Regions from separate parts of the Homo sapiens genome. Here all the other regions are linked to region 1. The links come from fine-mapping of genetic effects on gene expression. A gene starts in region 1. Each other region holds a variant in brackets. All regions are shown on one strand. Distances are between the middles of the regions.

Region 1 (4,110 bases):
CAATCCCAGTTTCCTTATCTCTAATTTGGGGTATATAAATAAGAACAACTCGTTCTTAGAACTGTTGTGAATCGGAGTGAGATAGTGCAAGTAAAGTATTTTACACAGAGCCGGGCATGTAGTAAACCAACAATGAATAGTAGCTTCATTTTCATCATCAATAATGACGATGATGGTGGTGGTGGGAGGGTAAACTTGGACCCGATTCGAGCTAAAAGCAAGCACCCCTTCCCCCTCTCCCCCTCCCAAGTGTATGGCTGAGCCACACGGTGGAGACACATGCGTCATCCGGCTGAGGGGTGAATGCAGGCTCTTCTGGCGGCGGGCTCAGGAACCGCCAGGCAGTGGTGTCCTAGCTCACCTGGAGGGGTCGCGGGGTGAAGCAGATTTTCTGATGGGGGAGGTCCAATAAACTACAGACCCTCTCTTTCTGTATACCCACTCAGCAGGTATGGAAACTGACTCGTGGCCAAAGAACGCCAGCTGCATCCCTCCCCCAAGGAGCCAGGACAGCGTCCACCATGCCCCTGACTCAGTTCCCCAACTCTCTCTCGGGTGCAGGCGAGACTGCGCTGCACTTAGTGGCGGAGATAACAGGTTGGCCAGCCAGGCCTGAGAAACGTCCCCCCGCTACCTTGCGCAAACCCAGCCCCCTCTTCGAAACGCAGGTGGGCAAACAACCCTCAACCTCGCAACAACTTTGTGTATTTCACCGCCACCACAGGGCGCACGGCCTCAACTTCTCTTCACTGCGCTCCGAGGAGGGAAGCAGGAAATCGAGAATAAGGGGCAGCCCACAGACCACCCTCCTTTTCTCGGGGCGCCCCCCAAAGGCGCGCCCTGCCTTACCTTGTCTGACGGCCTTGAAGGTGACGGCCTCCTTGCAGCTGTCGATGACCCCCAGCACGTCATAGCGGGGCAAGCCGGACACCCGGACCCCCTGCACCTCCAGAAGCAGCTCCCCTTCGCCCAGCCTCGGGCCCTCGCCGCCGCCGGGAAGCCCCGCTGCCTCGACCGCCGCCACCGCTCCGACGTACGGAAACTCCCCGTGCTCCGCGCCTCCCAGCACCGTCACCCCCAGCTCGCCCTGGGGTCCCCGCTTCACGGTGCATTCGTGAACCCTGCTAGTCCAGTGGTTCTTCTTCTGGATCACTTTGGACATGATGAGTTACACCCCTCCTCCAAAAAAATAAAACGAGAGACAGGTGCCCCCCACAGCACGAGCCCCCAAGCCTCCGCTTGTTCATGGGAGAAACATCTCTCCCCAAATCACAAAACAGGAGAGAGAAACTTGGCAGCCTCGCTCCCCTGCACACGCTCGCGCACTCAAGCCATCATAAAACAAACTTTCTGGGCTTCCCCGCGAGCCCCGCACAGGCGCCCGCGAGCTTTGTTTGCATTCCGGTGCCTCTGGGTCCACGTTCCGGCGCCCGCCCGTGCTCTCCCGGACCAGAGTCCACTCTGCGCCGCTCGGGTTATTTTTTTTTCCTTCCTTCCTTTCTCTCTTGCCTTTTACAAATGCGGTGCCTCCTCTTTGCCTCCCGCCCGGCTCGCCTCTCCTCGCTGGCAGGCTGTTACTGAGGGTGAGGGAAGCCCTTCCAGCCAGTTGCCGGGAGCCCTGAAGACGCGGTGGCGGGGCGGCGGGGAGCAGGGCGGGAGGTAAGTGCTCGCGGCCCCTTTAAGCAGATACAAAGGCTCGGCTTGTTTTGTTACAGTTCATTCTATTCCGCGCCGCGGAGCGCAGCGGCCGGCGACAGGAGACGCGCGCGCATGCGCCCCGCGGCCGCCAGCCGGCCGGCCCACCCCTCCCCTCCTCCCCGAAGGGAGAGATTCCAACGTGCTTCCCGATGGGTCCTAAAACCGACCTGCCGGGAGAAGGCAACTCCCCCCCAACCCTTCCTGAACCCCTATCCTCTCTCCTTTTCTTTCAGTGCCCTGGACTCCGCGGATTCCTTTGGGGCTGGAGGGCCGCACACGTGTTTTACTCCAACTGTTTGCAACTTTTGAAACCCGGGCAATCTGGCTTTGGCATTTGAAAACCATTTCAAACAGGTGGGGGTTGGGGAGGCTGCCACACTCACCCTGGCGCTCACACTCACGCACACGCGCACGCACTCGCGCCGGCCCTAAGCCTCCTAACCGCCCTCGGCCAGTGGCTGGCCAGGCTGTCGGTCACCCAGCCCGGCTGGTTCGCCGCCCCCCTTGCCGCAGGTCCCACTGAAACCCCCGAGACCCGCCCCGGGGCGCTCGCCGCCTCCCTGCCTGCCCTGCGCTTGCGGGTTCGGGTCCTGGCGCGGGGTCTGCCAGGGTCTCTGCGACCCGGGGGAGGGGGACGGTGGGATCCTCCGGTTCCCCAACTGGGATCCCTGTGCGGGTCACACGCGCTCTTACACACACCCGCATCCTTAAACTTTGGGACCAACTTTTTAGGACACGGGAAACTACAGGCAAGAGAGAGAAGCCATGGTGCTAGTGTGGGTTCAGGTATTCAACCAAAAAAGAGATCCCTCTAGCTTTTCAACTGCCCTGCCAGCAGAGACTGCTGGACCCAGTCAATCATCTGCCCCGGCCTCAAGTTCCTGGCAGGGCCGAGAAGCCTGCGGACCTACTCCGGGGCCAGGAGATAAGGATCCCCGCCGGGCGCGGACATGCCCTGCGTCCTGGCGCCCGCGGGGGCGTGAGAGAACTCGGAATTCGCAGCCCGGGGGTAGCTGCGGCCTCCGGAGGTCGCCCGGGGGTGCGGATGGAGTGACTTCTGTCCCGGCGAGGTGGCGGACAGAAAGACTCCCATACCACAGGAAGGCTGCCCTTCCCAAATACTCCTCAAATCAGGCTGCTGAGTAGTCTCCCCAGCAGTTTGTTTTCCTCTTTAGTGATGTATAATTTTGTTCATCTTTGGTCACAGGAGAGATTCCAAGAAATGAGGGGGGTACGTTGAAACGATGAAGAAAGGATGGACACAGCAGTCGAGGTTGAGAGGTAGGCTCAGGGGTCCACCCTTGTGTGACCTTGAGCAAGCTTGGTGACCTCCGCGCCTCCGTTTCTCGCTGATCAAATAAGTAGAACAAGACCTCACAGGGTTCTTGGAAGTATTACGTGGGAAAACACTTATAAAGTGGCAAATAATAAAAACTCATTATATTCTTAATAGTAGTATTACTATTTGGGAAGAAAATTGGGAAATCATTTGGGGATTCAAGTTAGTAAGTATGATAATTTATCCTCTCCTTTCTAGAACTTAGAAAATATGGGCATACTTTGTGTGTTTGTTTTTTGATGGTGGTGGTGGTGTTTTTAGAAACGTGGTCTTGCTTTGTCCCCAAGCTGGAGTGCAGTAGCTCGACTAGCTGATTGTAACCTCGAACTTCTGGACTCAAGCAATCCTACCACCTCAGCCTCCTGAGTATCTGGAATTATAGGCACATGCCACCATGCCCAGCTAGTTTTATTTTTTTGATTTTTTGTAGACATGGGGGGGTCTCCCTATGTTGATTGCCCAGGCTGGTCTCAAACTCCTGGGCTCAAGCCAACCTCCTGACTCAGCTTCCCAAAGTGCTGGGGTTATAGATGTGAGCCACCATACCTGGTTTAGGCATACGTTTAAACATCCTTTTAAAGCATTGTAGGGTGCTATTCTAAGCTAATAAAAGTAAGGAGGGATGTTGATGCTTCTCTCTTGGGATATCCAGAACTGAAAATCCCATTGCATTGTTGTGTTTCTGAAAAAAGGAGGTGACCAATTTTCCATGGCTTTGCTTGGTGAGAGGAACTTTGTCTCCAGCTTTTTTTCAGAAGCAATCTAGGTCAATATGAACAGCACTTCAAAACATAAATTATCAAACCCGAGCACAGATCCAGCCAATCAGAATGTCAAGGAAGGGCTAAGTCATTTGAACTTTTAAGGTTCCCCTTATGTGTTGTTGGTACACAACGCTGAGCACCATAGGTTTAGTATCTTGATTCCAAAGCATTGTTTGGGTCCCAGACCTTTTTGTCAAATAAACCTGTGATCCACATCTCTGTGTAAAATAAAAACTCAAGGAGGTCAGGACACTTTGACAGTTTGGTTTACTGATGTATTATTCCCAGTTCCTAGAATGGTGCCTCGTA
Region 2 (4,110 bases), 590 kb before region 1:
ACTGTATAATGAGCTAACTTTGATGTCTTTCAAAAAGGAGCTGGAAAGATGAATTACGTCAAGATAAAATATATCAAAGAAGAAAGCCTTGAAAACTGCCCTGAAGGAGTGTTGGGAGGCATTTAACTGGTTTTGTGAGAAAACACATACACACACACACACACACACACACACACACACTTTCTAAGTCAAGGAGCTCAGAAATATTAGAATTAAAATGTCCTCAAAAATTTCAGGGAGCAAAACAAGTCCAAATCCTTTCTGTTCTTGACCTCGTCCTCTTGCTGTCAGTACAACATTTTCTTATTGTTGAGAAGAAAACATGGGAGAACACACAAAAATCATTTCATACATAATGTTTCCCCAGGGTCAGGGCAAGTGGCTCCTATAAGCTTCACAAACACAGGAATTGAGCCTGTTTTCAGTACCACAATACGCTCAGTGCCCAGTGTAGCCTTCTGCACATGTTAGGTACTAAATATTTCTTGATGAATGAATGAATGAACCAATCAATCAATGATTGACTTAAATAACCAACATGGGCCTAGACACCTTGTAAACTCTTGATTTGTTGTGGGGTGGGGGGAGGGAGGAGGGATAGCATTAGGAGAAATACCTAATGTAAATGACGAGTTAATGGATGCAGCACACCAACATGGCACATGTATACATATGTAACAAACCTGCACGTTGTGCATATATACCCTAGAACTTAAAGTATAATAATAATAAAAAAATGATCCCACTGCCAGCGGTAAGTTTTGATTGGCACCGTTTCTTAAAAGGAGAATCTAATTTACACAAAGTCATCTGTGAAAATGCCCATTTGGATATTATCTAATGTCTTTGGGAGCATTTGTTCACTTCTTCAGTAGTTATTTATCAAGACCTATGATGTGCCAGTCACTGTGCTAGGTGACATATCAAAATGAACACAATCAGGGGCCAGGCGTGGTGTCTCATGCCTGTAATCCTAGCACTTTGGGAGGCCAAAGTGGGTGGATCACCTGAGGTTGGGAGTTCGAGACCAGCCTGGCCAACATGGTGAAACCCCGACTCTATTAAAAATACAAAAAAATTAGTCAGGCAGGTGGCGCTCACCTGTAATCCCAGCCACTCGGGAGGCTGAGGCAGGAGAATCGCTTGAACAGGGAGGCAAAGGTTGCAGTGAGCAGAGATCATGCCACCACACTCCAGCCTGGGTAACAGGGCGAGACTCCATCTCAAAAAACAGAATCAGACATCTCTACTTTTCCAGAACAGGAGACAAATCCAAGGCTCACACAAATAAAACTAAAATTAAAACCATGATAAGTTCTCAACAGAGTAAGATACATGAGTGACCTAATCATATTTTTGGGGGCAAAGTCATGGAAAAATTCCCTGAAGTATAACCTGAAGGATATGCAAAGTTTAATGTCTGTTGTATTCATTGACACATTCGAATACCTAGGATGCACGTGACATACAGAAATTATTCAATAACTATTGTGAAATATAAGAGTATAGTGAAATGTAAGCGTATTCTAAGAGAGAAATGCACATTTAACTGACATGAGGCAGGAACTCAATGAGGACTAGTGGGGATGAAGAGCAGAGAGCAGAGAAATAGTGTGAGAAAACCTAGAGAGGCTGACCACACAGGGCTCAGAGTAGCAAGCTATGGACCTGGCATTTCCTAAGCAGACCCTGTGGAGGTTGTCAGCGATAACATCATCACATTTACATTTTAAAAGATTTCTCCGAGTACAACATAAAAAGGAGAGTGAAAAGAGTCTGTATGGGAGATGAGCATGATCCCAGATGAGAATGGAAGATGCGGTGAAAAAAATAGTGAATGGATCCAAGAGATATTTAGGATGCCAACTGAATTCAGCTGGTTCACGGGTTAGAAATAGGTGTGAAGAAAAGTGACATATCAAGGGGGAATTTTGAGTATGCATAAATTTACCATGAATGGAGACAGGAAACACTTTGTATATTACGTAATTTGGGGGGAAAGATCATCAGTTTTAATGGTTTTAATACGACTAAGTCGAAGTATCTTTGAGACAATCGTTGACATTATCAATCACATGGATTACAATATTGGTCTGGAGTTCAAAGGCAACACTGA[G/A]GGCTTCTAACTGAACTGGACACAGCAGTGACAGAAGGAGTCATTCACTAACATCAAAATCTCAAACCAGTTTCTCGATTTTCTGAGATAGGAAATAGAACATATTAAATCTTTATAATAATTAAGTATGATGCTATACTGTTACACCTCATATGTATGACCTACAGAGAACAGAAAGAAATACAGGGACAATATTTGCAACCAATATGTTTTTCTGCTTTGTGTTATAAATAATAACAAGGCAGCTTTGCGTTAACTGGCAACAGAAAATGCAAACTGATACTTACCATAATCTGATTATATATTTATACTGTTTGTGTGTACAGGCACACAGATATACATAGAATTTCTACTAGAAACAGAATATATGAATTCTAATATTAAAGAGATAATTATAAACTAACTGCATTTGGTATGAATACATTCTTGTTCCAAAGGAAATAACATTAACACAAAAAGATAAGAATTTTAAGAATTAAAAATTACTAGATTTGGTAACAAAAATGCCAATTCCATTCAATACTTTCACTCTATGTACAGTTTTTCTCAGTAAAAGCTATTGCAGTATTCTATCACTTATAATATTGTATTAACAAGCATTTTCATACATTCCCAGAATAATTACAAAAGGGATATTGACATTGAAGACCCTATGGTAATAAGTGCCTAAATTGCTTTCAAAATCATAAGGCATCAAATAATGATTATTGTTCCATGAAATTTTAGGGTTGAATGTGTTTTATGCTATGATCTTTGAAAACTGGTTATTTATGTTCAGGTTGAGTAGTCATTATCCAAAATGGTTAGAATCAAAAGGGTTTCAGATTTTGCATATTTTCAGATTGGAGATACTTGTGTAATATACTTACTGGCTCAGCATTCCTAATCCGAAAATCCAAGATCCAAAATGCTCCAGTGAACATTTCCTCTGAGCATCATGGTGACACTCAGAAAGTTTTGGATTTTGGAGCCTGTTGTTGCTTTGTTTGTTTCTTTTAAGACAGGGTCTCTCTCTGTCACCAAGGCTGGAATGTAGTGGCACAATCACAGCTCTCTGCAGCCTCCTACTCTTGGGCTCAGGTGATCCTTCTGCCTCAGCCTCCCAAGTAGCTGGGACCACAGGCGCATGCCAACACGCCTAGCTAATTTTTGTTTTATTATTTGTAGAGTCAAGGTCTCACTACATTGCCCAGGCTGGTCTTGAACTCCTTGGCTCAAGTGATCCTCCTGCCTCAGCCTCCCAAAGTGCTGAGATTACAGGTATGAGCCACACCATGCCTGGCCAGTTTTGGAGCATTTTGGACTTCAAATTTTGGGATCAGGGATACTTAACCAGTATTACATGTTAAACAGAATACTGAAATAATCAGTATAGTCTATTATCTCCCAAGCATGCAAAATACCAGAGCTGAATGAACCTGTTCTATTCCTTCTTCAGGAATCAAACAAAGCAACCAAGATAAAACAAAGCAACCAAGATAAAACAAACATCTTGGTCATGCCTCCTAAGTTAGAAGGACTTTTGTTTCCATTTGAAGTAACTCAGATAAATACCAACACAATAGTCTATGTCATTTAACGTAATCTGCAAACCATGTATAATAGAAGGATCATGGAGTGCAAGGTTTTCACAGTATTATACTATAAAATACTGCCTTGCATTTTCAAAAAATCTTCAAGTTTATATATACAACCATTCTGCACTATAGGACGAATAATAAAGTTCTGTTATCTTACAGTAAAATACATATTTAATAATTATACTACTAATTCACATGCCAGAATTGAATAATGAGTAGCAAAGCAGAGCGAAGCAAACCATTTCCCTTTTCATTCTTCCACATCAAAAAATAATTTTGGTAGAACTTGGGATAGACGTTGGTGTACTGAAAAGGGACACACTAGCTCTGTTTCAATTTTTTTTTTTTTTCATTTTGGAGAAGTAATTAGAAAACCCAAAGCCTTGAAATGAACTTTTTCAACAAAAGCTCTTA
Region 3 (4,110 bases), 22 kb before region 1:
CCAGTTCTAACCCTAACTGACAACAAATCATCGCTACATGATCTTTTCCTTCTGGGAATGCCTGCAGCACTGTTTAATCCTGCCCCACCACCATCCCCTCACCCAGCACCCTCTCCCAGACCAGACAGGGTGGCTCATGCCTGTAATCCCAGCACCTTGGGAGGCTGAGGCAGGAGGATTGCTTGAGCCCAGGAGTTCAAGACCAGCCTAGGCAATACAGTGAGACCCTGTCTCTACAAAAAAAAAAAAAAAAAATCTAAAAAATAAAAATAGAAATACAAAGACATAATACACACGTACTAATTGATAAATTAAGACAGCTATGGTAAATAAAAATAAGCTTTGGATATATAAAAGACCTGGATATAAAGCCCTGGCTCTGCTGAGCCCAGTAAAGCACCTTACGTCCTGCAGGCATCCATTTCCTCATTGATAACTGTGGACGCAGCCAACCCCCTCCCAGCCTGAACCTAAGAACCTGGTTTGTTTCCCAACTTTGCCTACCATTAACAGCAGTGAAAAAAAAAAATCTTAACTCCTCTGTGCCTCAATTTCCTACTCTCAAAAATGGGAATGATTATAACACATTTCATAGAGCTGATTGAGAAGTAAATGAGTTGATAAAAAGCACTTCCAGCAAAGGATGGCATAGAGTAAGGGGTACATATATGCTAGATATTCTATAGCTACTGCCTTAAAATAACAATTAGATGATATTTTTTAAATATGCCAAAAAGTTTATAAGCAATAAATGTCTAGTAGCTTAATTTTTATCCCATCTACACTGGAATAATCAACAGAAAGAAAAATTGACCAAACCAGGAAACTACCCTGACATAAAGTTTATTGGAAAATGTCTATACGCATTTTCTCTCTTTCTATCTGTACATCAATCATTCTAGAACACTAAAGACTCAGGGATCACTTAATTGCTCTATCATCATTTGTAGCTTCCTACAGAGTGGTGACTAAATTGAGACTTCAAGAAATCGAAAGGAAATAACATGAGGACATAAAGACAGTATACTTAGAATGTGTTTCTATCAAATATGCTCCATATAATTTGGTCCAACAAATTCAGCTCTATAAAATCTCAAAGGAGGTAGTGGTGCCAGGAAAGAAGATAAAAACCCAGAGTGTTAAAACAGAAGTGTTTTGAGTCAATTACGAAGTCTATTCAGCGCCTCCACAAGCCTAGAATCAAGTGATCAGATTCAAAGGAGGAAAACTGACAAAATTAATATGGTAATAACTATCAGTCATTCAGTGTTGCCTTTGCTCTGTGTTCCATGCCGAGAGTTGACTGCATCATTTCATTGAATCCCTGTAGCAATCATATAAGATATGTGCTCTTATTACTGCTACTTCACAGAAGTAAAAACATGTACCCAAGGCCACATAGCAAGGAAGCAGCAGGACCAGATTTGAACCCGGACTACATGAAATTCAAATCCTGTGCACATAATTACTGAGCATACAGCCTCCAAGCCAGAAAGGTGGAAGGGTCGACTGGGTCAAAGCTGATGGCGGGACCGAAGAACAGCTGACCAATACACACACCCTTTGCAAAGAAGCGACGAGGACACGTTGCTGGCAAGGCTCTACTCTGGCAATATGTGCCCCAGCACCGGAGCTGGAGACTTTGGGTAAGTGGTGCTCCGGAGAGACCCAGGGAAAGTCAGGCAAAACTGAGCAAGAAAGAAAAGCAGAATGGAGGAGGTCAGGACATCAAGAAAATCTGACTCCACCTGCTTCCAAGGGGAGTGGGAAGATAAAAGTCAAATAGGACAAGGTGGAAACAACCCAATCTCCATCAACAGATGAAGGGTGAGCAAAATGGGGTACATACACAATGGAATATTATTCAGACTTTAGAAGGAAGGAAATTCTGACACGCTGCAGCGTGGATGAATCTTGAGGACATTACACTAATTGAGATAAGCCAGTCGCAAAAGGGTAAACACTGTACGATTTCACTT[T/A]TATGAGGTATCTGGAGTAGTCAAATTCACAGAGAAAGAAATTTAGAGGTCACCAGGGGCCAGGGGAAAGGGGAATGGGGAGTTGGTAATAGGCACAGTAGGAGAAGATGAAAAAGTTCTGGAGATGGATGGTGGTAATAACTGCATAATAACCTGAATATACTTAATGCCACTTAATTGTATAATTAAAATGGTTAATTTTATGTTATGTTACGTATATTTTACCACAATTTTGTTTAAGTCTCATAGAACCTTGCTACGTTCATGAAGTGCCAAGTTGCACTGCCGGGAACCCCAAGGAGAAAGTAGGAGTTAGTCAGTGCGGGAAGACGCAAGCACTTGTGTCTCAACACGCGCAGGGCGCGGCTGCAGATGGAAAAACCGGGAAGCTCCGCGCTGCAATGAGCCAGGCTCGCAGTGAAACCATCGCCAAGGCACCAACGTCTCCCTCCCAACGGAGGGTGCAAGGAAGGGTGCCTGGCCTCAGCTTTCTTCAGATCAAACTCCAGGGGGTCACCTACCCTTAATTCACACAATGGTACATCACACCCTGAAGGGGATCCTGCCACCTGTCACCAGGCAACAATGCAGCCTCCTGACGAACACCAAGCTAGAGGAAACCCACCGCTGTCACCTAATCTGCTGTCACCTAATCTCAGACAAGTAACAACTTCCAAGGCTCAGGGTTCTGACCGCTAAACTGGAGAGGATGGTACACACACTTCACAGCACGTGCTAAGGATGAAGGATGGTGCACGTGTGGCCCTCAGTGCAAAGCCTGAGTAGAGAGGCACTAAATCAAGCTCCACTATTGTTATCATCCGTATAGGTCTACTCTCCTCGGTTTTCACTTTCATACATGAAGCCCAACAGCCAGGTGACAGGACAGATTGGGCAGGTGAGAGCTGGAAGTCATCCCAACTTTGAAAAGAAAGGACTCTTAGGAAAACACAAAGAAGGAGGCAGAAACCATTAGAATAGTTAAACAATGAGAATGCTGAGAACCAACAAGCTGAGAGAAAAAGCAAACATCTTTACTCTTCTTTGGGAATTAATATCTGTAAATTGCTTTGTCTTGGACTCATTTATTTTTCCTCCTTTGATCTTGGTCAGAGATGCGGTCCACAATTTTTGGTGGTTGTGCTTCATGAACACACAACCAGGAGACAAAGATAAGGAAGGACACTTTGGTGGGGGGGGGGGGTGTCTGCACATGCCCATTTAATGTTGTTTTCTTTTACAAGCCTGGCTGGAACAAAATACCTTTAACCTCCACTACACCCTCACCCCAACACACACAGGAGCAGCCCCTGCATATTTTCACACGTGTAACTTTCTGCTACCACCAGGGGATGTAAAAGCAGAGTATTTTCTTCCAAAGACTGACTGCCTGGTTAACAGCATTTGGCCATACTCTAGTACCCCAGAGGTGACATCCCATTCTCTACCTTCCAACAAGGGTATTCAGTGCCAGGAGTTAAACCCTGGGATTCCAAAATTCTAGGCTAAGTGGCCTCCAGCCAGGCACAAAGAGCCAGGCATTTTTTTTTTAATAGATGCAGAAACTGAGGCACAGAGAGGTTAAGCAAGTGATCAAGGTCACACAGCCGGTAAGGGCCGGTGAAGGAATTGAAAATAGGCCAGTGACCACTGTAACCAGTAAACTATCTTGCCTCACATGGATCATGATCACCATCCCTTGTGGCTAGGTTCCAGGTGGACTTGGTACAGCCTTTGGTGGCCGCTGATGGGCTGGTGACCCTCTTTGCAGCCTTCTGCATTCTGAGTGCTCGGGGTCTTAATCAGCCACCTGAGCTCTGACTCTCACCTCACTCAGCACAGCATGGGTTGGTCTCATTACTTACCTCCCATCCTCCTCTTTCAAGTCATTGCTTGTCAAGTTTTGCAAGAATGAGAACTGGCTGTCTGATCACCTCTCGCTCTTCCCTTTGGGAAGCCACAGTGTGTCTCCATTGTTCCCCAGAACTGTTCAAGGCTTCCGGTAAATTCTCGTATCTTCCCTGAGCCATATCCAATTGGAAGGTACCTACCCACACCAAGAAGGATGCCATCTTGATTGGTTCATTCATTCACTCATTCATTCCACAAATGTTTATGCTGCTCAGCTGCC

Evidence for each region. PIP is the estimated chance that this variant, and not a neighbour inherited with it, causes the effect. A credible set is the group of variants that fine-mapping cannot tell apart.
Region 2: its variant is the best candidate, but not a certain one, in a credible set for the expression of MAGI1 in skeletal muscle (FUSION, PIP 0.56).
Region 3: its variant is the best candidate, but not a certain one, in a credible set for the expression of MAGI1 in cerebellar hemisphere (GTEx, PIP 0.67).

Annotation. Positions count from the first base shown.
Region 1 is chr3:66,037,147-66,041,256 of GRCh38, forward strand. It overlaps MAGI1 (membrane associated guanylate kinase, WW and PDZ domain containing 1), which reads right to left and starts at 1,772. Exons shown (of 23, transcript NM_001033057.2): 1 at 850-1,772. The coding sequence starts at 1,162. LOC105377128 (a long non-coding RNA gene) reads left to right here and starts at 1,807. Exons shown (of 2, transcript XR_001740440.2): 1 at 1,807-2,052; 2 at 2,906-3,148. RefSeq lists an enhancer at 1-787 and a silencer at 1,740-1,859.
Region 2 is chr3:65,448,550-65,452,659 of GRCh38, forward strand. The region is part of intron 6 of MAGI1 (membrane associated guanylate kinase, WW and PDZ domain containing 1); the gene reads right to left. Among named protein-coding and RNA genes, the nearest start is that of LINC02040, 280 kb to the left of the region's middle. The variant G/A (reference allele first, on the strand shown) is at 2,117.
Region 3 is chr3:66,014,943-66,019,052 of GRCh38, forward strand. The region is part of intron 1 of MAGI1 (membrane associated guanylate kinase, WW and PDZ domain containing 1); the gene reads right to left. LOC124900543 (a long non-coding RNA gene) reads right to left here. Exons shown (of 2, transcript XR_007095951.1): 1 at 1-4,110. Among named protein-coding and RNA genes, the nearest start is that of MAGI1, 22 kb to the right of the region's middle. The variant T/A (reference allele first, on the strand shown) is at 1,980.